7 linked regions of the Homo sapiens genome follow. The protein of the gene in region 3 interacts with the protein of the main gene of each other region in a pairwise test. Each region holds a gene or a part of one and is shown on either strand. Other genes may lie near its edges.

Region 1 (3,016 bases), on a different chromosome or scaffold from region 3:
TTTTTTTTTTTTGAGACCGAGTTTCGATCTTGTTTCCCAGGCTGGAGTGCAATGGCGCGATCTCGGCTTGCCGCAACCTCTGCCTCCCGGGTTCAAACGGTTCTCCTGCCTCAGCCTTCCAAGCAGCTGGGATTACAGGCATGTGCCACCATGCTGGGCTAATTTTTTTATTTTTAGTAGAGACGGGGTTTTGCCTTGTTGGCTAGGCTGGCCTTGAACTCCTGACCTCAGGTGACCTGCCCGCTTCAGCCTTCCAAAGTGCTGGGATTACAGGTGTGAGCCACTTTGCCTGGCCCACATTTTTATTTTCTTTTCTTTCTTTCTTTTCTTTTTTTTTTTTTTTTTTTTTGAGATGGAGTTTCACTCTTGTTGCCCAGGCTGGAGTGCAATGGCGCGATCTCGGCTCACTGCAACCTCCGCCTCCTGGGCTCAAGCGATTCTCCTGCCTCAGCCTTCCAAGTACCTGGGATCACAGGCATGTGCCACTACACCCGGCTAATTTTGTATTTTTTAGTAGAGACAGGCTTTCTCCATGTTAGGCTGGTCTCGAACTGTCAACCTCAGGTGATCCACCCGCCTCAGCCTCCCAAAGGGATGGGATTACAGGCGCGAACCACCGTGCCCCCCCCAACATTTTCATTTTCATCTCATGAAGAAAAGTTGATAGAAAAAAAGCCAGGTGGTTGGTACCCATGTTTATATAAAGATCCTGTCACAGACTCCATAGGATGAAACTCAGCTGTGAAATACGTGGGATTAAAAAGAGATTAGAGTCTGGGCGGGCAGATCACAAGGTCAAGAGATGGAGGCCGGCATGGCGGCCCACGCCTGTTATTCCAGCACTGTGGGAGGCCGAGGCGGGCGGATCACAAGGTCAAGAGATGGAGGCCGGCACGGTGGCTCACACCTGTCATCCTAGCACTGTGGGAGGCCAAGGTAGGCAGATCACAGGGTCAAGAGATCAAGGCAGGGTGTGGTGGCCCACACTTGTCATCCCAGCACTGTGGGAGGCTGAAGTGGATGGATCTCAAGGTCAGGAGATTGAGACCATCCTGGCCAACATAGTGAAACGCCATCTCTACTAAAAATACAAAAATTAGCTGGGTGTGTGGCGTGTGCCTGTAATCCCAGCTACTGGGGAGGCTGAGGCAGGAGAATCTCTTGAGCCTGGGAGACGGGGGTTGCAGTGAGCCAAGAGCAAGACTCCATCTCAAAAAACAAACAAAAAAAAGATTAGTTTAAACTTTTTATTTGAAAATTCTCAAAATTGAATGGCATAGGCCAGGCGCAGTGGCTCACACCTGTAATCCCACCACTTTGGGAGGCCAAGGCAGGCGGATTGCTTCAGGCCAGGTGTTCGAGACCAGCCTGGCCAACATGGCAAAACCCCGACTCTACTAAAAATCCAAAAAAATTAGCCGGGCATGGTGGCAGGTGCCTGTAATCCCAGCACTTTGGGAGGCCGAGGTGGATGGATCACCTGAGGTCAGGAGTTTGAGACCAGCCTGGCCAACATGGTAAAATCCCGTCTCTACTAAAAATACAAAAAAGTAGCCGGGCATGGTGGTGCATGCCTGTAATCCCAGCTACTCAGGAGGCTGAGGCAAAAGAATCGCTTGAACCTGGGAGGCAGATGTTGTGGTGAGCCAAGATCGCACCATTGCACTCCAGCCTGGGCAACAAGAGTGAAACTCCATCTCAAAAAAAAAGAAAAAAAGTGGAAATGTTTGATTATGTTTAGGTTGAAAGCAGAGTTTTGCATCAGCGAAATGGTTTTTCATGAGACCGAAATGAGCGTAAAGCAGAAGCAAGGGTCAAGGTTTTGCCCAGGGAGGACAAGAAGAACTCCCCAGAGGACAGTGGGGAATGGAGAGGACAGTGGGGAATGGGGAGGACCGAGAAGCTACTCACTACCCCAAGTAACCAGGCGTATTTTTGTAGGGCCAGGTGCATGCCCATATTGATTGACAGGGTCTCACTGTGTTGCCCAAGCTGGACGTGAACTCCTGGGCTCCAGCCATCCTACTGTCTCAGCCTCCCAAGTAGCATACCACCACACTCATCTGCCTCCTTTGCTTTTTTTTTTTTTTTTTTTTTTTTTTTTTTTTGAGATAGAGTCTTGCCCTGTTGCTCAGACTGGAGTGCAATGGCACCATCTCAGCTCACCGCAACCCCCACCCTTCTGAGTTCAAAGGATTCTCCGGCCTCAGCCTCCCAAGTAGCTGGGATTACAGGCATGCACCACCACAGCCAGCTAATTTGTTGTATTTTTATTTTTATTTATTTATTTATTTTCGAGACAGAGTCTCACTCTGTCACCAGGGCTGGAGTGCAGTGGCACGATCTTGGCTCACTGCAACTTCCGCCTCCCTAGTTCAAGTGATTCTCCTGCCTCAGCTTTCCGAATAGCTGGGACTACAGGCGCTCGCCGCCATGCCCAGCTAATTTTTGTAGTTTTAACAGAAATGGGGTTTCACCATGTTGGCCAGGATGGTCTCGATCTCTTGACCTCGTGATCCGCCCACCTCAGCCTCCCAAAGTGCTGGGATTACAGGCATGAGCCACTGCGCCCAGCCCTTGTTGTATTTTTAGCAGAGACAGGGTTTCACCATGTTGGCCGGGCTGGTCTTAAAACTCCTGACCTCAGGTGATCCGTCCACCTCGGCCTCCCAAAGTACCAGGATTACAGGTGTGAGCCACTGCACCCGCCCCTGTCTTTGCTTCTTAAGGTGAAATTGAGATGACTGAATCTTAGTACAATTTTTTTTTTTTGAGACAGGGTCTTGCTGTCACCCAGGCGGCAGTGCAGTGTGGCAAAATCATAGCTCACTGTAGCCTTCAATTCCTCAGCTCAAGTGATCCTCCCACCTCCACCTCTCAAGTAGCTGGGACCACAGGCATGCTCCACAATGCCTGGCTAATTTTTTATTTTTTTATTTTTTGTAGAGACAGGGTTTTGCTATGTTGCCAAGGCTAGTCTTGAACTCCTGGGCTCAAGGGATCTGCCTGCCTTGGC
Region 2 (2,695 bases), on a different chromosome or scaffold from region 3:
AGCGCTTCACACAGAGCTCCAACCTGCAGCAGCACCGGCGGTTGCACTTGCGGCCAGTCGCCTTTGCCCGCGCCCCCCGCCTCCCCATCACTGGTCTCTACAACAAGAGTCCCTACTACTGCGGGACTTGTGGCCGCTGGTTCCGCGCCATGGCGGGCTTGCGACTGCATCAGCGGGTCCATGCCCGAGCTCGGACTTTGACGCTACAGCCTCCCAGATCACCATCTCCTGCCCCACCCCCACCTCCAGAGCCTCAACAGACTATCATGTGCACAGAGCTGGGGGAGACCATCGCCATCATTGAGACATCCCAGCCACTGGCGCTTGAGGACACCCTGCAGCTGTGCCAGGCTGCACTGGGGGCCAGTGAAGCAGGCGGGCTCTTGCAGTTGGACACGGCCTTCGTGTGACGCAGCTGAAAAGCAACAACAAAAGGGTTTGGTTGCAACAGCCAGTGTGGGTACCTCTGGGGAGAGAGGACCTCCTCTGACAAACTGGTCTGGTACCCACCATGTGCCAGGATCCACCCTGGCCTCTTTTTACCCACTGACTCCCCAGAACAACCCTTCCAGGCTTCTCTTGTCATCTTTCTCTGCCTGAGGGGAAACTGAAGCTCTGAAATGCGATGTGATCTGTACCAGGTCACCCAGCTATGCTGCAAAGTGGGTTGGCCAAGGCCCTTTGCACTGCATCACCCTGGTGCCCAGCAACATCAGGTAACCTTCACTGAGCACCAAGCTTATGCCAGGTCTGTGCTGGCCACTCTCATATACCTCTTCAGATCCTCTGCTTGTACCCCCAGCCCTTGCCTTCCCTGGATTTTGGGCACCCAGGACTTTGCTCTGCCTGGTGGAGGGTACTTGATTTCTCTGGGCTTCCTTCATCTCAATTCTGACAGTGTGGAAGGAAATCTGTAGGTACCCAGGTCCTCAGCTCCAGACTGGGTGATGCTGGAGACCCAGGAGCAAGTCAGCACAGGCTCTGCCCACAGGAGGCATGCACAATCTGGTAGGAGAAACGCACAAGTACAGATAGCTTGCTCTCTGAGTGTGTCTCATTGATTCATTCAGCCTGTGTGTCCTAAAGCCTCCCTTCTCCCATACTGGGTGATGCTGGGGGCAGAGATGAGTCAGGCCTAAGGCTTCTCTGGGCTGTGATGGGGATGTGCAGGGACAGTGGGATCCCAGGAAACAGACCTCCATGGTGGGAGATCAGGAGTTAAGGACTTCCTAGAGAAGGTAGTCCCTGAAGGAAAAGTAGGAATCTGGCAGTGAAAGAGGAAAAGAACATTCCAGGCAGACAGCACTGCAAGAGGGTGAGCTCTTGGTGTATTTGGAGACCATCCAGTTATTCATCTGACTGCCTACCTGAGGCAAGCACCACACTTACCACTGTATGTGTACTATGATCCCAACAGGCTTGTGACATAGATTTCATATTATCCCTGTTGTATAGATTTTTAAAACTGGTGGCTGGGCGTGGTGGCTCACGCCTGTAATCCCAGCACTTTGGGAGGCCGAGGCGGGCAGATCACGAGGTCAGGAGATCGAGACCATCCTGGCTAACACGGTGAAACCCCGTCTCTACTAAAAATACAAAAAATTAGCCAGGAGTGGTGGCGGGCGCCTGTGGTGGCCAGCTACTCAGGAGGCTGAGGCAGGAGAATGGCGTGAACCCGGGAGGCGGAGCTTGCAGTGAGCCGAGATCGCGCCACTGCACTCCAGCCTGGGCGACAGAGTGAGACTCCCTCTCAAAAGAAAATAAAAATAAAAATAAACTGGCCAGGTGCGGTGGCTCACGCTTGCAATCCCAGTGCTTTGGGAGACTGAGGCAGGAGGATCACTTAAGGCCAGGAGTTCGAGACCAGCCTGGGCAACAGCAAGACCTCATCTCTACAAAACTTAAAAGTTAGCCAGGCCTGGTGGCACATGCCTGTAATCCGAGTGCTTTGGGAGGCTGAGGCAGGAGGATCACTCGAGCTCAAGAATTCAAGACCTGGGCAAGAGAGAGAGACTTTGTCTCTATTAAAAATAAAAATGATTGGCCGAGCATGGTGGTGCACACCAGTATTCCCAGCTACTCTGGAGGCTGAGGCGGAGGCAGGATTGCTTGATATGAGGGAGATTGAGGCTGCAGTGAGCTGTGTTCACACCACTGCACTCCAGTCTGGGCAACAGTGCAAGACCCTGTCACTTAAAAAAAAAAAAAAGGAAAAAAAAACTAAGGACAGAGATTTGCCCAAGGTTTCACAGCTAGGCAGAGATGTGAGATTTGAGTACGGGAGGCCCCTGCGGCCCACATTTGTAACCCATACTATTCTGAGTGATTAAGACCTGAAACTTGTGCAGGGGTAGGGGATCAGAGGAAGATTCATTCTAACTAGAGGAAAAGTAAACCAGTGTCAGAGCTATTGGGATTTGAAGGGGCTTCGAAACATCAAAGGTCTTGAGAGCAGGAAGATTCCCACCTTTTTCAGAGGTTACCTAGGATAATAGTCTTTCTCTCCATTGATTGATTGATTGATTGAGATGGAGTCTTGCTCTGTTGCCCAGGCTGGAGCACAGTGGTGCAGTCTCAGCTCACTGCAACCTCCACCTTCCAGGCTCAAGCGATTCTCCTGCCTCAGTCTCCCTAATAGCTGGGATTACAGGCCCCCACCACTGCACCCAGCTAATTTTTGTATTTTAGTAGAGAC
Region 3 (3,500 bases):
GGAAGTTGAGATTTAATAAAGATAAGTAATTCACTTAGTGTTAATTAAAAGACTTGGTTGTTTTAATCAAAAAGAGGGGTAATGAAATAGCTGTTTAAAACTTTTTAAAAAACGTAAATCTTATCAGCTAAAACTCTTGGAATGACTTTTTATCATGGGGTCTGCATTATAAATTTAGAATTGCCAGAGACGGACAAACTCAACAAAGTATAAGCATGTAAAAAGAATATTTTTTAAAAAAGCTTCTGTGAAAAAGTGTGAGAGCAGAAATATTTTCTGTAAAATGAGTACACAAAACCTAAACAATCTGCCAAAGTAAAAAACAAAAAGAACCTGTCATCATCAGCTACAACAGTATTTCATAAATTGGTAATTCAATATATTAAGCTCAACTAATGCATTCTAGCTTTTACTTAATGCTAAAAAAGACAATACTCTGTACACAGCTGCTATGAAAAATAAATTTATAGACCTTTAAAATTCAATGTTTTATATATTTTACTTACATTCAAAATGCATCTTGTTTACATTTTTGTTTTTAATTTAGTTGCTCAACTGTACTAATAATTTTGAAATTGTATCATACAGAATAACGTGTTTATTTGCATGTAAATGTCAAATGTGCACATAAGTGTGGTTGACAGTCTCTAAGAGCTTTCTACCTTTCAAGTAGTCATTGTACTTGAAATTTTTGCAGTAACAGAGCAATACTATTGCCTATTATATTAGGCAGTATTTGTATGCATTACAGATAAACGAGGTGACTAGTACAACACTCAAATCTCTTGTCTAAGCAGAATGTTTACTTTTTATATATATTAACTTTCACCTTTTCATTTTACATGGCATCATGTTCACATTTAACATATGCTAATCTTTGCTGTTGTCCACAAGATTTACTATTTATGAGAATGTTCAAACATTCAAATTATGCCTCAAATACTATTACTGAAATAAATATTAATCAAAACTACACCAATTACAAGGGGGGGGAAGCTACTGGACACTCATATTTGTCTGCTAATCCTAGACATTGGAAAAGTAATAGACCAAAACCCTACATAGATACGGTACTGAAATTAAATCACATCTAATGGAGATTATCCTTATCTGAAAGGTTACAATGCTCCCCTAGAATTTTTTCATTCAATATGTGTAATGGTTGATTTTACATCAACTTGATGATGCCACCGGATACCCAGATATTTGGTCAAACGGTATTCTGGTGTTTATGTGAGGGTAGTTTTGGATGAGATTAACATTTAAGTAAGTCAGTAGACTGAGTAAAGCAGAGTGTCTTCCATAATGTGAGTGGGCTTTATCCAATCAGTTGAAGGCCTGAATAGAACAAAAAGTTCACCCTGTCCCCAAGTAAGGAAGACTGTTTCTGCCTAATGGCCATTGAATTGAGACACTGGCTCCTCCTGGCTCTATAGCAGCCTGCTGGTCATCAGACTTGAACTGGGCCATCAGCTGTTTAGGTTTTAGACTTACCAGCCTCCACAATTATGTGAGCAAATTCCTTGTAACAAATCTCCTTATATGTATATATATATAACATATATGTATAACATTTTCTATTGGTTCTGTTTCTCAGGAGAAATCTGACTAATACAACATGGAATATTGAGCCAGCACTTCTTGGTGACTTACATTAAAGCCCTAGTACATCTAAGATTCTCTACAAGGAAATATACATCTGTCATGTCAATAATTCCTGAATAAAAGTAGCAAATAAGAATTTAAGCTGAAATAAACATCAAATTTATTAACAAAATATTCATTCTATTGGACAAAATATGTAATCATTTTAATTTGTGCTTTTCAAACTGTGGGTTGCTACCTCTTGGGTGATACCAAAGTTTTCCAAATGGAAATCAGAATAAGTAGACTGAGATTGAATAGAAAATATCAGAGTACATCCATAGGGGTAAAGATAAACACTATTTTGGAAACTTTTATTTCTGAGGCAGAACAGCATGTGTTTACATGTACGGATGCTGGGAATCAGACTGCCTAGTTTTCAATCCTGGTGCTGGTACTTAGTAGCGTAAACTTGGACAAGTTAGTTAACCACTCAGTGCTTCCCTTTCCTCACCTGCAGAATGGAAATAATGCCTATTTTGATAGGATTTTTGTGCTGATTAACTCAATAAAGTGTGTAAAGCCATATAGGTACTGAGTATTGAGAATTATCATGCATGCCTATATCAGGTTGTCATAAAAATACATTTTTACTATAGATTGAGATTTAAAAGTTTGAAAGCTATGGATTTAGAAGAATTTTTTAACAAAGCACATCACATTTGGTATCTTTTTTTTAATCTCTATAAAGTTTTCTATTCATAGTAGTGCCTACTTTCCTATTTGGTATTAAATACAATTTAGTTCATTTTAATTAGTAACTAATTTACAGAAAATTTGCCCTTATTTGACAGTCTGTGAACACAAATATCATTAATGAGGTCAATTGTGCTCTATAATATACTTTTATTAATAAGTGGCTAATGTTGGGTAGCCATATCAACAACAAGTAAGTCCTTCTGTTTTCTCACTTGCTTACCTAAGTCCAAACAGTGTCAGGAATTTGTTTTTATTTTGTAGAGACACAGACTATCCTCTGGCCTAAACCCAATAGAAGACATGGAATAACCAAAGAGACCGAAGTAGTGGTTAAGTTAGGAATTCAGGTCAGAATTCCTGATCTCACAGGCTCCACCCTCTCACAGAGCTAGAAGTTCTTACGAGAAGCAGATTACGTAGGGTCAATGATCCAATGCAATGATTCATCCAAAAGAACTCTGGCCAGAAACTTTCCAGTTGTGTGGTATCATATCAACACTTTACATAGACAAGTATCAAAGCCTTTCCCTAAGGTTTTTTTTTTTTTTTACTTTCTATAAGCCTTAGCTTTCACTTTTGGTGTTATTTACCATTATGGTCACATTTGGTTTACACTAATTATTACTGTTATTCGTAAACACTAGTATGTGTATATGTAACATCAGTTTCTGTAAAAGTCATTCATTCATTCAACAAATATTGAGGGCCTTAAATAAAAACTTGGTACTGTATTAGGTTATAGAGGTATAATGGTGAGCAGGAGGGAAAAAAAGCATACTCCTGCCCTCACAGAGCTTACAGTCTAGTGGAATAGAGAGTCATTAAACAATCACACACACACACACAAACATACATAAGATTGCAAGATAGCCTCCTTGACAAGCTTCAGCTATAATTGGCACCCCTTATTGACCATACCTGCATCAAGAAAGCAATTTTAGAATCATCTTCATAATCAGCTTCTGTATAGTAGAGCTGTTGAAGTAAACATTTGTACTTCAAAAATGATTCTCGTTTTTGAGCCTCATTCTGAAGGTTAATGCAGTTACGACACCGGTATATGCGGCGTGAGGTGGATGATACAGAAAATTCTGTAGAAGGCAAATAAAGCTGGCAACTGTGGCAAAAGTAAATCTTCTTATAAAATTTCAATGGGT
Region 4 (3,500 bases), on a different chromosome or scaffold from region 3:
CTGGCCCTGCCTGTCAACTCCAGCCCTGCCGTGATCTTTGCTCGGCAGCACTTCCCTGGCACCGATGACCAGCTGAGGTGAGGCCTTGGTGCTCCTAGCTCATAACCTGGGGACCCACCCAAGGCAGGGGCCCTTACCCCAGTGCCAGCAAAGAAAGGCCAAAGCTGGAGCCTCGGCTGAGCTTCCTGGGGTCAAATGCCCCGAGACAGTGGACGTCCAGGCCATCAGGTGGGGAGCAAGGTTAGGTGTGGCTGCACTCGAGTGACAATCACACAATTAGCCTTAGTCTATATTTATCTTGCAGTGGAATGGACACTCATGGAGGTCATGGGTCCAAATATCCCCACAGCCTCCACCTGGCTGAGGCCCTGGGAGGAGGCGTGTGTCCCTGGACCACGCCAGTACTTGTCCCTGGGAAACACTGCCCCAGGCTGTCTGAGAGGGCCTCTGCTTCCTTCCAGAGCCCCCAGCTCTAAACAGAGGCCCCAGAAGGCTGGAAACAATTCCTCCCTGCCAGCAGCCAGAGCCTGTGCCATCTGCTGTAATTTCAGAGCTCACTGAGCCGTTGGAAGGGCCTCTGGCCGCTAATGACAATGGAGGATGGGTGCAGGGAGAAAGGGTTTCCCTTCTGGAGTCACTCAGAGTCTGGTCTTAAGACCTGAGTGGGGCAAATGGTGGGGACGGTTTAGAGGGAGGGCAGACCAAAGTGGCCCGAGGACAAGAGGCAGGGCCCACCTCTCCTCTGGGCAGGGCTTAGCCATGCTAGGAAGACCTCCCCACCCCACCCTACCAGCTGGCCAGCCTTCCCTCCCACTGTAGCTGGGGTCTCCCCAGGGAAGAAGGAAGGTGTGGACAGATGAATGACTTCTGAAAACAGTTCTCACAATTGCATCTGAGGGGGTATTTTCCTCCTGGTGCAATTAAGCCAGGCCCAGAATCCTGGTATGACAGTTCCCGCTGCTCGTTTCTCCAGTGCCTTTCCCCAAGCACTCGATTTCCTTTTCATTAGTACCGGGGGGTGGGAGGAAAGGGACCAAATTACTGGCTTTTCCCAGGAGAAAATTTTCCACAAGGCCAGGGGTCCTGCCCTGTCCAGACCCAGGGCTGGCTTTTCCAAGGAAGAACTCCACCCTTCACCCTCCACCCCTTCTGGCCTGCTCTGTGGCCTCTCCTAGCTTCCGTCTCCCTCTCTGCTCCCTCTCCTCTTCAAGATGATTCCAGTTTCCTCTCCCTTCCCCAAGAGCTACTCGACCCCCAGTTCTCACCAAAGGACCATTTTGAATCCAAGGCTTGTGGTGGGCTCTCGGCATGGGGCTGGGGGGCAAGAACCACATCTGATTAGTGCAGGAACCACATCTGATTAGTGCACACGGGGGCGGCATACAATGGGCGATCACAGAGTTTGGCAGTGGGGATGAGGGAGGGAGGAGGGAGGGAGAAGGGAGGGAAGAGGAAGGAGATGGAAGGAAGAGGGAAGGAGGGAGGGGAGGCAGAAGGGAGGGAGGGAGGGAGGAAGCCAGGCCCTGGGAGGAAGGGCTCAGGCCTCCCTTCTCCCTGCAGGTTTGCAGCCAGCCTCATCTCTGGTGTACTCAGCTACAAGGCCCTGCTGGACAGGTAGGACTGGGAGGGTGGTGCCCTGTTCCAGCACAGTCTGCCTATGCGTCTATCTCCCTTGCAGGGACCTTGTCTTTTTCCAGCTCTGTATTCCCATTCCTGGCTCCTGGCACAGAGCAGATGTCCCTGCCCCAACCCACTCCCCCACCATCAGGATGACCTTTAGCCTGGCTGGCCTGTCTGTTAACTGTTCCTTTTCCTGTGGCAAGCACCATCCTTCCTTGATCTTTTAAAAATGTCTCCTCCCTCCACACATACGTGCACAGGTGGAGTGAATTCACTTGAAGCTGGAGAACACATAGGAAGGCGGGGAAGGAAGAGTTGTTAGAGTAAGGTGATGGGAGTTCTGCTTTGCCACTTGGAGGAATGGTGTCTCCAGCGGGAGACTGTATCCTCAATCCCACCAAGCTCAGTGGACATGAGGCTGTTCTGACAGATGGAGAGGGCTGCTCAAGCACCGCAGGCTCTCTTTGATTTTAGGAAGAAAGTCCCTCTCCTGGCCAAGCTTAGGAGAGCAGGAGGGTGTCTGAGAGCAGCAGGGAGAGTAAGCGGGTCTGGAGGACCCAAGTCTCTCAAGGTAGAGACTATAAGGGCATTAGAAGCTGGAAGGAGAGAGAGAGGCCCAAAGAAGCATCCCTTGCACAGATGAGGAAGCTGCAGCTCAGAGAGGTTAAGTAACTCATCCATGGTTACACAGCCAGGTGGTGGCAGAGCAAGGAGGGGGCAAGGGGCAAACTTCACTCTTTGTTCAACTTGACTCAATTCAGTCTTTACCCAGCCTTGGGACAGAGGCTCAGACCCACAGCCCCTTCCAGGGTAGGGCTGTTCCCTCTGGAGAGGGGCAGGCAGAGCTCCCAGACTGTCAGGGTGGAGCAGTTCAGGCTGTCCAGGGCATTCTGCACCACACGCTCCTGTGTGCTCTGCTCACTCCTCTCTAAATGCCATGGGTCACTAGGCCCTGGGCTGTTGTCTCCTCATGGTGTGTCTTTGGTCTCTCCCTTCTTCGTGGACAGCATTCTATTTCCTCCCAGAACTCGCCCCTCCAGCTCACCGTCCTGTCTGTTTTCAAACACCATTGTCTTGCTGGGCCTGGGGACTTGGTGCCCATTCATCACTGACTGCCCCCACGAGACCACTTTCCTTCTGATCCCAGACTTTCACATGTGTGTGCACACTCACACAGACACGAATACCCATGCATATCCACGTGGAGGTTCCCATGTCCAATGATTGAAAAGGACTTAAGACTGGAACATTTTCCTGAGTGCCTGTTTTGAACCTTTAATTAATTAATTAATTAATTTACTTATTCACTTTGCAATGTAGTTATGCTGGGAAGAGGAAGAGAAATAAGGCCTCATCCTCCCCTCAAAATGTCCTTAGACTATTGGGCAAGACAGTCACTTAAACAGACACAAAATACAGCTGTGTCCCTTCCCCTGAGTCCCACACTCGCTCATCCAAGCCTCAGCCATCCCCACCGGGGTGTCTCTCAGTCATTACAAATGAGCCAGGAGAGCTTCGCCTCTCCCTCCCCATTCCCCAACTCCTCCCATACCTTGTCGAGCCATGTCCGTAAGTGCACCAGCACATGCCCTGTTGGTGAGTCTGGGAACCTAGAAGTCACCTGTGCTTGTTCTGCTTTCTCCCTTGCACCTTCATGTAACCCATGGTGCTCAGATGTGGTCATTCTCCCTCCCCACTGTGTCCCCAAGCTCCCTCCTCCTTCCCTGCTGCCCTCACAAGACATCACGTTCCTTCTCTGCCACAACCTCCTTCCTTGTTCTTCCTGTGACACCTTTCAGTCCATTCTCCCCATATAAGCAGGGTCAGTAAAACAACAAAATGGAAACCCAGTCATGCCCCTGCGTGCTAAAGCCTCCCAA
Region 5 (3,500 bases), on a different chromosome or scaffold from region 3:
ATTCACAATATCAACTTCCGTCCTAAGGCTGATAGCTTGATGGCTACAACAATTCCAGGAGGTAAGCAACTTCCTGAGGAAGAAGAAAAGACAATCTTTTCTGATGACTTTGTCTTATGAATGAGGACACTTTCCTCAGAAGTCCATCTGTAACCTTCCCCTAATGTCACATTGAGTGGAATTTGATCAATGCCTCTTCCTAAACAAGAGAGTACCAAGGGGATAGATTATCCGTAGACCAAAGAGACTCACTCTTGGAAATGGAATTAGCCTCTCTGTGACATGTGACTAAAAGGAGGAGAAAGTCAGTAACCTGCAGTGGCAACTATGCAAAAATGGCATCCTTTTAGTAAAGGGTTATGGTAAGCAACACAGAATATACAAAGCACTGAGGCTACAGCACAAAGAGCACAGTGACACTGACTTAGCAATTATGACCTTTAAAAACCATGTAGTTCTCATCTATTCTTTCTTGCTTTCTCCAGCCCACTCCATAATAGGAATAGATCAGAAATTTTAAAAGAACTAGAAAGATCTGATATACACATGTTGTGCAGGATATCAAATAGTTTTCTCAGTATACACAATAATCCTGTAAAGTAGTTAATGCCAGCTCCCTTTTAAGGATGAAGAAACTGGGTTATAAAGACGTTAAGTACCTTTGCTAAAGTTACACAAATAGTGACAAAGTCTGTATTCAGACTTTGGACTGTCTGGCTCTGAAATCTGGGTACTCCCAACTCTTCTGTACAAACTCCCTTTAGAATGTACTCCCAGGGCTCAGAAACTAGTTACTCTAGTCTAAGCAAGCACTTAACAATCATTAGGCAGTTAATGTAAACTATAGATTCTAATAGTATCATGCACTGCCTCTTGATGGTGGTGGTGGTGGTAGTGACATAGACAACTTTTCTCTCCTAGCATTAAGTTACAGTTCCTCAGACTTCATTACCAATAATATATATATTTTTCAATTTTTAAAGATTTTTTGTAGAAACAAGGTATAACTGCATTGCCCAGGCCAGTCTTGAATTCCTGCACTCAAGTGACCCTCCCACCTTGGCCTCCCAAAGTGCTGGAATCACAGGCATGAGCCATTGTGCATGGCCATTACCAGGAATTTTGATTCAGGAGGTCAAAAGTCTAATTTGCATTGCACATTACAAATTTTTGGGCTGAGATGTCAGGTTCAGGGAGCCCCATAAATTTCCTGTACCTGGGAGTGAAAAGAGCTAATATTTATGGAGCAGCTGGGTTTTCCAGGGCAACCTAATTCCCAGATGTGATGTTCAGCAGAAAAGAAGCAGACAAAAGCAATGTGCACTGCTTTTTTTTTTTTTTTTTTTTTTTTTTAAATAGAGAGGGGGTCTTGCTATGTTGCCTAGGCTGCTCTTGAGCTCCTGGACTTAAGCGATCCTCCCACCTTGGACTCCCAAAGTGCTGAGATTAAAGGTGTGAGCCACCACACCCAGCCCATTTTAAATTTTTTATTTTTTATTTTTCACTGCTCTTTAGCTTCCCTGTTAAAACCCATAGCCAGACTTCCAGTTTCAGTTCCAACATGTAAGAACTTGTAAGTCATTGCTCCTGTACTTACAACCAGAAAAAAATCTGAACAAACAGAATCAACAACATTTCTTAGATTCTTCAAAGAACTGAGGCATAGGACAGTTGACTACCCCAAATTCTGAAGGCAAATCCAGAGAGTCACAGCCTATTTCTTCTTTCATAGAACAGAAACTGCTAGAGACATAAATAGGTAAGAGCACTTAAATGTAATTTTGATGAATTGCTGGAGACTGAGTGTGGAATAATATGAGAGTGAGAAACCCCTGAGGATCTGCAGTCAGGGAGGTCCCCACACTTTTGTGGGCATTACTTCCAAGAAACCCACCATATTCTTGCAGTGAAGGGCCTCATGGCCCCTGCAGTGGGAAGGGAACTGTACTTTTGTGAAATACACCCAGAGCCTTCTTCATTTTTTAAAAAAAAAGCCTATTCTGTGGTGGAAAAGACTTTATCAGAGCCTTATCTCAGCTGAGGGAAAGGCGTTTCTCCTATTTCAGCCCCCTTTAGGTTTCTAGTCTCATGTAAGGGAGAGAAAGGCGCTAAAATAAAACTCTTATGAAAATCAAAGCCCAGGGACACAGGCCCACAAAAGACTGAAATTTAATCATAATATTATAGAACACTTCCTCTCCTCTGCACTTCACCACCATGCTAACAAGGCTTTATTATAATAATAGTGGATAACAGTGAATAACAGTTAAAAGAGCTGCAAAATGTAAACTCTCCCTGAGAAGAATATTTAGGGAAATGCTAGAAATCAAAAATACTGTAACAGAGCCCAGGCACAGTGGCTCACGCCTGTAATCCCAACACTTTGGGAGGCTGAGGTGGGTAGATCACCTGAGGTCAGGAGTTCAAGATCAGCCTGGCCAACATGGAGAAACCCCATCTCTACTAAAAGTACAAAAATTAGCTGGGCGTGGTGGCGGGTGCCTGTAATCCCAGCTACTCAGGAGGCTGAGGCAGGAGAATCGCTTGAACCCGGGAGGTGGAGGTTGCAGTGAGCCGAAATTGTGCCACTGCACTCCAGCAAATGAAGAATGCCTTTGATGGGATTATCAGTAGACTGGACACAGTTGAGGAAAGACTCAGCAAGCTTGAGTAGCAGTCCCCAATCTTTTTTGGCACCAGGGGCAGATTTCGTGGAAGACAATTTTTCCATAGACTGGGGGGCGAATGGCATGGTTTCAGGACAATTGAAGTGCATTACATGTATTATGTACTTTATTTCTATTATTATTACATTGTAATAGATAATGAAATAATTATACAATTCACCATAATGTAGAATCACTGGGAGCCCGGAGATTGTTTTTGTAAAGCTAGATGGTCCCATCTTGGGGTGATGGGAGGCAGTGACAGATCATCAGGCATTAGATTCTCATAAGGAGCATGCAACCTAGATCCTTCACATGTGCAGTTCACAATACGGTTTGTGCTCTTATGAGAATCTAATGCCACTGCTGATCTTCCAGAAGGCGGAGCTCAGGCGGCAATGAAAGTGATGGGGAGTGGCTGTATATACAGATGAAGATTTACTGGCTAGCCCGCCACTCACCTCCTGCTGTGTGACCCAGTTCCTAACAGGCCATGGACGGGTCCAGGTCCGTGGCCTAGGGGCTGGGGACTCCTGAGCTTGAAGATAGGTCAATAGTGTAAACTAAAAAGTATGTAAGACATGTCTCAATTGATTTAGAAGTTTATTTTGCCAAGGTGAAGACATTCCCAGAAGAAAAGAGCATGGAATCACAGAAACAGTCTGTGGTCTGTGCCTTTATCCAAAGATAATTTTGAGGGCTTCAATATTTAAATGGAAACAGCAGGCTAGAGGGGAAGAGGGAGGGTACAGTAATCCACATGATGCAAGGGAAAAGGAGCAGAAACAGGAATAGTCAATTCTGTATTCCTCTGGCTCACAGTAAATCAGCACT
Region 6 (3,500 bases), on a different chromosome or scaffold from region 3:
TCTCTGGCCCTCAATTTCTTCAATGATAAAATGAAAAGGTCAGATTACATGATCCGCAAAGCTTCATGGGAGCTTTGTGCTCTGCCAGTTAGGAGCTGTGTAGCCAAGAGCAGATACTTAACCTCTCCACCTCTCAGTGTTCTCATCCAATAAAATGTGAATAACAATAGTTCTAAACTCTCACATTATTAAAAGGGTTAAAATAAGGGAATACACACAAAGCTCTTAGAACAATGCATGGTACACAGCGTGTTCGATAAATGTTAGCTATCATTCAGTTTCATGGCCAAAGACATAGGCTTTGGTGTCAGATGAATCTGTCTTCAAGTCCAGCTTTGCGACTATGGGCAAGTTAGTTAACTTGTCTGAGCTTCCATTTCTCCCTCTATAAAAGTGAGCAAATAATACCTACCTCATGGGGTTGTTGAGAGAACTAAGTGGTGTGATATAAGTAACAGGTAATCAACAGCTGTTACCTCTTGTTAAGTTTCTCAGTATGTGTTTATGAATGAATGCCAGTTCTGTCCTGAAGATGCTAAAGCAAAGTTACTTGGTTGCTAAGATAATAATAAACTGATATTACTATTGTTATTTTTATGACTCAGACGCCTCTCCACACCTATATACAATAAGCTCAGCCCTGGCTCAGTGCATGACAATGGTCCCTTGTTGAGAGACAAATCTTATTATAGGACAGGCCCTTCTTTCCAGTTGATGCCAGTATATGATTACTTTTAATTTCCTTAAGGCATCTAACTAGTTTAAACCAAAAATTGTATTTCTGAGATTATAGATTTTGCTCCTGTGAACCTCAAACTCCACCTTATTTTATTCATTAGATTATTAATATTATCTTTAATACTACTAGTTCTCAAATAATTTCAACCTGCATTACTTCTGCAATAAAAATAATAAAGTATGTTTAAATGCTTTGTCAACAATTACAAAAGTGTCATTGCAAAGGCCCTTAAGCTGCTGGCCACATTGGTAACCTTCCTTCTCCCTGCTCTTCCCAATCAGGTTGAGTGGAGAGGGAGTTTCTCCAGTTAACATTTGTGAGTATGACATACTTCTTGGGCCATTTGGAGTGTGTGTGGTAGAGGGGATGGGGATGTGGTGGGCTTGCCAGAGGGTGAAGATATGACGGGTTAGACGGGATCTCACAGACAGCGTTCATTTGGAGAAGGTTTGAGGTTTTGGGTCCCTTAAAAAGCAAGCCATATTAGGAGTCTTTAATGTCACAGTTCTTTCCTCTTTGAGAGTGAGGGTGTCACAGAAGGGGTGATGAGAGGTTTGATGTCATTGTTCTGAGTGGGTTTAAAAGATCCTGGCCACATCTCCTACCTCCCAGAATTCCCTGCCTTTTTGTTGGGGCTGCAAGCCTAGCACAGAGGTGAGCACTTGATGTAGACGGGATTTATGAAAATTCCTGGTCTGGCTTGGACCTTTGAAGGGAGCCTTCATGCTGTGGACAAGAGCATTGCCAACTAGGCAGCTTCTCTCCTAAACAGTTTGAGAAGAAGCTCCACTGCTTGGCTCAACTCTGCCGAGTATAACTGCAGAAGGATGCCAAGGGTTTTCAAGGCAGTAAGGGCAGCATAAAATATGGCAGTTGGCTACAGTAGCTCTAAAACAGGAGAGGTATTAACAAGCTGGCATGGCCCTGTGCTGGTGAGAGAAGAAGTGGTCATTCGCAGAGCTCAGTGCTGGCATCACAAGGGCAACAGAAATGACTCTTACAACTCACCCTCTACAAGTGAGTTTGAGTTTGGTTTTCTTGATGGGCATTCATAAGGGCAATTCATTATATTAGCCAATGATTCTAGAAGGCAGAGCCCTCTGAACCACCCAGGTGTCCTTCCTCCCTGATGTCTTTGTCTAGTGGTGCCAGAGACCCTCAAAGCTAATTTTGGGGACAGGCCTTCAAGCATAACCTTGAAGCTCCTTTTCTCTTGAAAACACCTAATTGTCTGTATTAGTTTTCCAGGGCTGTTGCAAAAAGTACCACCAGTCAGGTGGTTTAAAGCAACAGAAATGTCTTGTCTCACAGTTCCGGAGGCTGAAATTAAGGGTTAGCAGGGCCCTGGTCCCTCTGAAACTTGGAGCCTGGACCAGCCTCCTGCTCTGTATATCATGCAGGGTGGCACTATCCCCTCTCCAAACCAGATAGTGTTCTGGAACACGGAGGCAGCATGGGCAGCCCAGCCCCCCTCCAGCCTCCTCCTAGCTCTGGCGGTGGCCATCCATCCTCGGTGTTCCTTGGCTTGTGGCTGCATCCCTCCACTCTCTGTTTCTGTGATTGTATGACCGTGTCCCTGTGTGTCTGTGGCTTCAGATGAATGTCTTCCTTCTTTCTGTATGGACACCAGTCATGTTAGATCAGGGCCCACCCTACAGACTTTATCTTAACTTGGTTATACCTGCAACGATCCCATTTCCAAATAAGGTTGCATTCACGGATACTGGTGTTAACACTTCACCATAGGTTTTTGAAGGACACAATTCATCCTATAACGGAGTCTATTTTTTTAAAATTTGATTTTCCTTCGGCAGGACCCAAAGTAGGGTGCTAGAATGTGTAAGGGGATGAGTTATAAATTAGGAGAAGAATAGGTTGGGAGGAGAACGGGGGCAGAGTTCACTGGCCAACAGGTTAATCTGTCACTTGATCCATCAAGAATATTCCAGCCTCCACCCTGGGATTCTGAGTGTGGGGCTGGGAGACGCTGAGGGAAGAGGAGTGTGCCCCTCCCCCCATAAGCATCCAGAAGGAAGAGAAACTCTGGAGTCAGGCTCAGACAGGGAGACAGACCCAGACGGCACAGCAGGAGGATCAAAGGGAAAGCAGGTGGACTGGAGCTGCTTCCAGGAGGAGAGGGCTCCAGTAGGTTCTGGAAGGGGAGGAGGAAGCCATTCCAGCCTAAGAGGCTGCCTGGAGCTGCAGCTCAGGAACACAGGCAGTGATCTCACTAAGCAGGGGACATTGGAAGGAGGCAAACTGCTGGCTGACGAGACCACCCCCTCCCCACCCAAGGACTCCAGGGCACAGGCCCTCACACTCCCAGCTGTCTTCTCGCTTGCACTTGATCTGACCACACCTCCTCTCTTCCCGGCAGCTGTGGTCACCTCTACTCTTTCCAGTGGCTATGGAAGCGGCAGCAGCATTGGAGGTGGAAACCTGGGCCTCGGTGGGGGCAGCGGCTACTCCTTCACCACCAGTGGTGGGCATAGCCTGGGTGCAGGCCTGGGAGGTTCTGGATTCAGTGCCACCAGCAACCGGGGCTTAGGGGGCAGTGGTTCTAGCGTCAAGTTTGTCTCCACCACATCCTCCAGCCAGAAGAGCTACACGCACTAAGAGAGCCCCATGGCTCCCTCTACCCTGCCTTGAGGCCTGTTTGCAGTCACACCTGGACACCAGGGTCCTCCTCCTTCCTCTCTCCTTGTAAGGTGCACCTGTGCTGCTGGGAGCCTGGAGTACTGGCTATACCCATTCCCAGGCC
Region 7 (3,500 bases), on a different chromosome or scaffold from region 3:
TTATAAAAACAATAGTTATAAATCAAAACGTTAATATACATATCCAGGCCAAAAAAATTTCTAATGTATCCAGCACTGAAAGTAAAGTAAAGAACTTTTTTTTGTTGTTGTTGTGAGACAGAGTCTCAGTCACCCAGGGTTGAGTGCAGTGGTGCGATCTTGGCTCACTGCAACCTCCACCTCCCAGATTCAAGTGATTCTCCTGCCTCAGCCTCCCAAGTAGCTGGGACTACAGGCACGTGCCACCATGCCTGGCTAATTTTTTGTGTTTTTAGTAGAGATGGGGTTTCACTGTGTTAGCCAGGATGGTCTCGATCTCCTGACCTCATGACCCGCCCGCCTCGGCCTCCCAAAGTGCTGGGATCATAGGCGTGAGCCACCACACCTGGCCAAGAACTTTTTGCAATGATGGAAATGTTCTGTATCTGTGCTAACCAGTATGGTAGCCACCAGCCATGTACTGAGCATTCAAAATGTGGCTATTATGACTAAAAATAATTGAATTTTAAATTTTAATTAAAATTTAAATAGCTCATAATGGTTAGTGATTTTCTCACTGGACAGTGCCCATTCAGAGGTTGAAATATTAACTTTTCAAAACAGTTAAGTAGCTTGTGGGGATATATTTAGATAATATTAGAATATTGCTGTAATAAAATGATATATCTTACATTCTAAGATGCTACTATTGATGATTGACTTAGGCAAATGCTTCCACTTCTTATGTGCTCATCTTTTCTTGCCTGTTAGTGGATTTGTAAGAATAGGAGTAACAGTCCTGCACCTCAATACTAACCAAAGATCTGTAGATTTGCCGTGGCCATTATACTTAAAAATTCATTATTCTTTTTACCCTTTGTTAGCTGGTTTTGCTATAGTATAGTAGTAATTCATTGAATGATGCTTTTTGAACTTTTTAGTGCAAGAAACTTTAAAATAAGTTACAGAAATTGAACTTTAAGGCCACTAGGTTTTGTTTTTTTTTTTTTTTTTTTGAGATGGAGTCTCGCTCTCGCCCAGGCTGGAGTGCAGTGGCACGATCTCGGCTCACTGCAAGCTCCGCCTCCCAGATTCATGCCATTCTCCTGCCTCAGCCTCCTAAGTTGCTGGGACCACATGCCTGGCTAATTTTTTTTGTATTTTTAGTGGAGATGGGGTTTCACCATGTTAGCCAGGATGGAATTGATCTCCTGACCTCGTGATCCACCCACCTTGGCCTCCCAAAGTGCTGGGATTACAGGCGTGAGCCACCGTGCCCAGCCTAAGGCCATTAGGTTTTAAGAAAATGTTGTAAATCACTTGAGGATTGAGGATATTCTTTTAATATTTAGTTTGTGATTTCAGGACTTAGTATTCTTATACCACACTAGATTATTAGTAATGCTAAGTTCATGTAAAAGAAAACCATAGTTCTCTACATCCCCCCAAAATTAGAATAATAATCCTCTGTTTTAAAAATCGGTGCCCTCTAGGCCAGGCACAGTGGCTCACACCTGTAATACCAGCACTTTGGGAGGTCGAGGTGGGCGGATCACTTGAGGTCAGGAGTTTGAGACCAAGCCTGGTCAACATCGTGAAACCCCATCTCTACAAAAATACAAAAATTAGCCAGGTGTGGTGGCACATACCTGTAATCCCAGCTACTCAGGAGGCCGAGGCACAAGAATCGCTTGAACCCATGGGCGGAGGTTGCAGCGAGCCGAAATCACACTACTGCACTCCAGCCTGGACAACAGCGAGACTCTGTCTCAAAAAAAAAAAAAAAAAAATTGATGCCTTCTATAGTTGAGAACTATAGGTATGAGTGGAATCTATAGCCAAGTTGCTCTGCAACATAAAAATTAATGATCTTTCTCATTATAATCAAATGTAAATAAGTGAGTTTTTTTTTCCTTGCTAAAGTATGGGACTATATTGGAAAAAGATGTTCTGGTTGTGGAGAAAGACATCAGTGGTTCTGATAATTCAAACAGATGGTGTTTCTTTTGGCTGGGTTAGATCTCATGTCCTGAGGAACCCTATCAGGGAGGGTAGGTCATCTCCAAATCTTGAATAGTAAGTGGCCCTTTCACAGTGCCGTATCAGTAACCATGAAGGTAAAGAGATTGTGGACTTTGGTAATACTCACTGTAAAATCACAGTGGTAGACAGTCATCAGAGACCTATATATGCATACAAGTTATTCAGCACCAACACCAGGAGATATCCTGTATTTAGGATGTAAAACTTTTTCTAGAGTGTTTTTTGAAATTTTGCTTTCAATTGACTTGGTTAACAAATTATTGTTTCCTGTGGATCTCTAAATTTGAGGCCCTAATGGAAACAAACTAGAATCAAGCTACAATCATTTCTGTTATATCAGCCAATCAGAAGAGTTATTTGTTCTGTCTGGCTATATGTTGTTAAATTCTATATGGTAATGTGAAAAAATACTTCAGCTTAGAGCACCTCTCCCTCCCCTACATACCTACCCACACATTTCTCAGAGGAGTTCTTATTGCCACAGCCTTTGGAGTAAAACAGCTCAGAGCTTGAACCTGGCTCTGTTGCATAATAGCTGTAGCTCCTCAGTTTTCATCTATAAAATGAAAATAACGGAGATGAGGATTAAGGGAAATTATATACACAGCACTTTGCAGCCAAATACTGGATACAAGGTAAGCACTCGATCAATGGTATGCTGAATTATTTTATCCTACATTAATGTATTTGAAAAAAACATAATTGGGGATGATTAATATGTCATTACAGATGTTTTTCCCCTTTTCCCTAGGATGAAAATGGGATAAATAGACCAGTCTGTTCCTATGTTAAACCACTTCGAGCTGGACGGCTTCTTGATACTCCAAGGCAAGCAGCAAGATTTGTTAATGTCCTTGGTTATGAACGAGCCCCTGTTATTGGAGGAGGAGGTAAACAGGAGCAGTGGTGCACTCTGCTGGCCTTTCTCTGTAGAAACAAGGTATTATACACACATAATAGAATTAAGTAGCAGTATATCATAGTTACTCTGAATTTGTAATCCATTTGTAAAAGAATGCCTTAGAAAAATGCACATATAGTCAACCCTCTGTACCCACAGGTTCTGTATCTGTAGATTCAACCAACTGCAGATCAAAAATACTTACAAAAGTAAAAAATTACAATAATAAAAAATAGTACAAATTAAAAAATGGTGTGTAACAACGTTTATGTAGCATTTACATTGTATTGAGATTTTTAAACAATTTAGAGGTGATTTAAAGTATATAGGAGGATGTGCTTAGGTTATATATAAAATACTATACCATTTTGGCTGGCCGCAGTGGCTCATGCCTGTATCCCAGCATTTTGGGAGGCTGAGGCAGGTGGATCACCTGAGGTCAGGAGTTCAAGACCAGTCTGGGCAACATGGTGAAACCCTATCTCTACTAAAATACAAAAAATTATCTGGGCATGGTGTCGTGTGCCTGTAATCCCAGCTACTCAGGAGGCTGAGGCAGGAGAATCACTTGGACCCT

The links.
Region 1: the proteins of IQUB (region 3) and ANAPC11 interact in binary tests that used the Homo sapiens proteins (3 or more experiments, as listed by UniProt).
Region 2: the proteins of IQUB (region 3) and ZNF526 interact in binary tests that used the Homo sapiens proteins (3 or more experiments, as listed by UniProt).
Region 4: the proteins of IQUB (region 3) and CHAT interact in binary tests that used the Homo sapiens proteins (3 or more experiments, as listed by UniProt).
Region 5: the proteins of IQUB (region 3) and GPRASP3 interact in binary tests that used the Homo sapiens proteins (3 or more experiments, as listed by UniProt).
Region 6: the proteins of IQUB (region 3) and KRT75 interact in binary tests that used the Homo sapiens proteins (3 or more experiments, as listed by UniProt).
Region 7: the proteins of IQUB (region 3) and CEP76 interact in binary tests that used the Homo sapiens proteins (3 or more experiments, as listed by UniProt).

What each region holds. Positions count from the first base shown.
Region 1 is NC_000017.11:81,894,723-81,897,738, forward strand, and holds part of ANAPC11 (anaphase-promoting complex subunit 11), read left to right. Parts: intron 1-3,016. UniProt on the Homo sapiens protein: Together with the cullin protein ANAPC2, constitutes the catalytic component of the anaphase promoting complex/cyclosome (APC/C), a cell cycle-regulated E3 ubiquitin ligase that controls progression through mitosis and the G1 phase of the cell cycle.
Region 2 is NC_000019.10:42,226,007-42,228,701, forward strand, and holds the end of ZNF526 (zinc finger protein 526), read left to right. Parts: coding exon 1-410; 3' UTR 411-2,195; downstream 2,196-2,695. UniProt on the Homo sapiens protein: May be involved in transcriptional regulation.
Region 3 is NC_000007.14:123,458,096-123,461,595, forward strand, and holds part of IQUB (IQ motif and ubiquitin-like domain-containing protein), read right to left. Parts: coding exon 3,262-3,500; intron 1-3,261. UniProt on the Homo sapiens protein: Adapter protein that anchors the radial spoke 1 (RS1) complex to the A microtubule of outer doublet microtubules in axonemes. The triple radial spokes (RS1, RS2 and RS3) are required to modulate beating of the sperm flagellum.
Region 4 is NC_000010.11:49,620,537-49,624,036, forward strand, and holds part of CHAT (choline O-acetyltransferase), read left to right. Parts: coding exon 1-77; intron 78-1,560; coding exon 1,561-1,614; intron 1,615-3,500. UniProt on the Homo sapiens protein: Catalyzes the reversible synthesis of acetylcholine (ACh) from acetyl CoA and choline at cholinergic synapses.
Region 5 is NC_000023.11:102,727,243-102,730,742, forward strand, and holds part of GPRASP3 (G protein-coupled receptor associated sorting protein 3), read left to right. Parts: intron 1-3,500. UniProt on the Homo sapiens protein: Survival and differentiation promoting protein that plays a role in the regulation of neurosynaptogenesis. Induces phosphatase PP2A activity which results in APP dephosphorylation and inhibits BACE1-mediated processing of APP.
Region 6 is NC_000012.12:52,424,372-52,427,871, reverse strand, and holds part of KRT75 (keratin, type II cytoskeletal 75), read left to right. Parts: intron 1-1,020; coding exon 1,021-1,055; intron 1,056-3,116; coding exon 3,117-3,355; 3' UTR 3,356-3,500.
Region 7 is NC_000018.10:12,685,724-12,689,223, reverse strand, and holds part of CEP76 (centrosomal protein of 76 kDa), read left to right. Parts: intron 1-2,773; coding exon 2,774-2,962; intron 2,963-3,500. UniProt on the Homo sapiens protein: Centrosomal protein involved in regulation of centriole duplication. Required to limit centriole duplication to once per cell cycle by preventing centriole reduplication.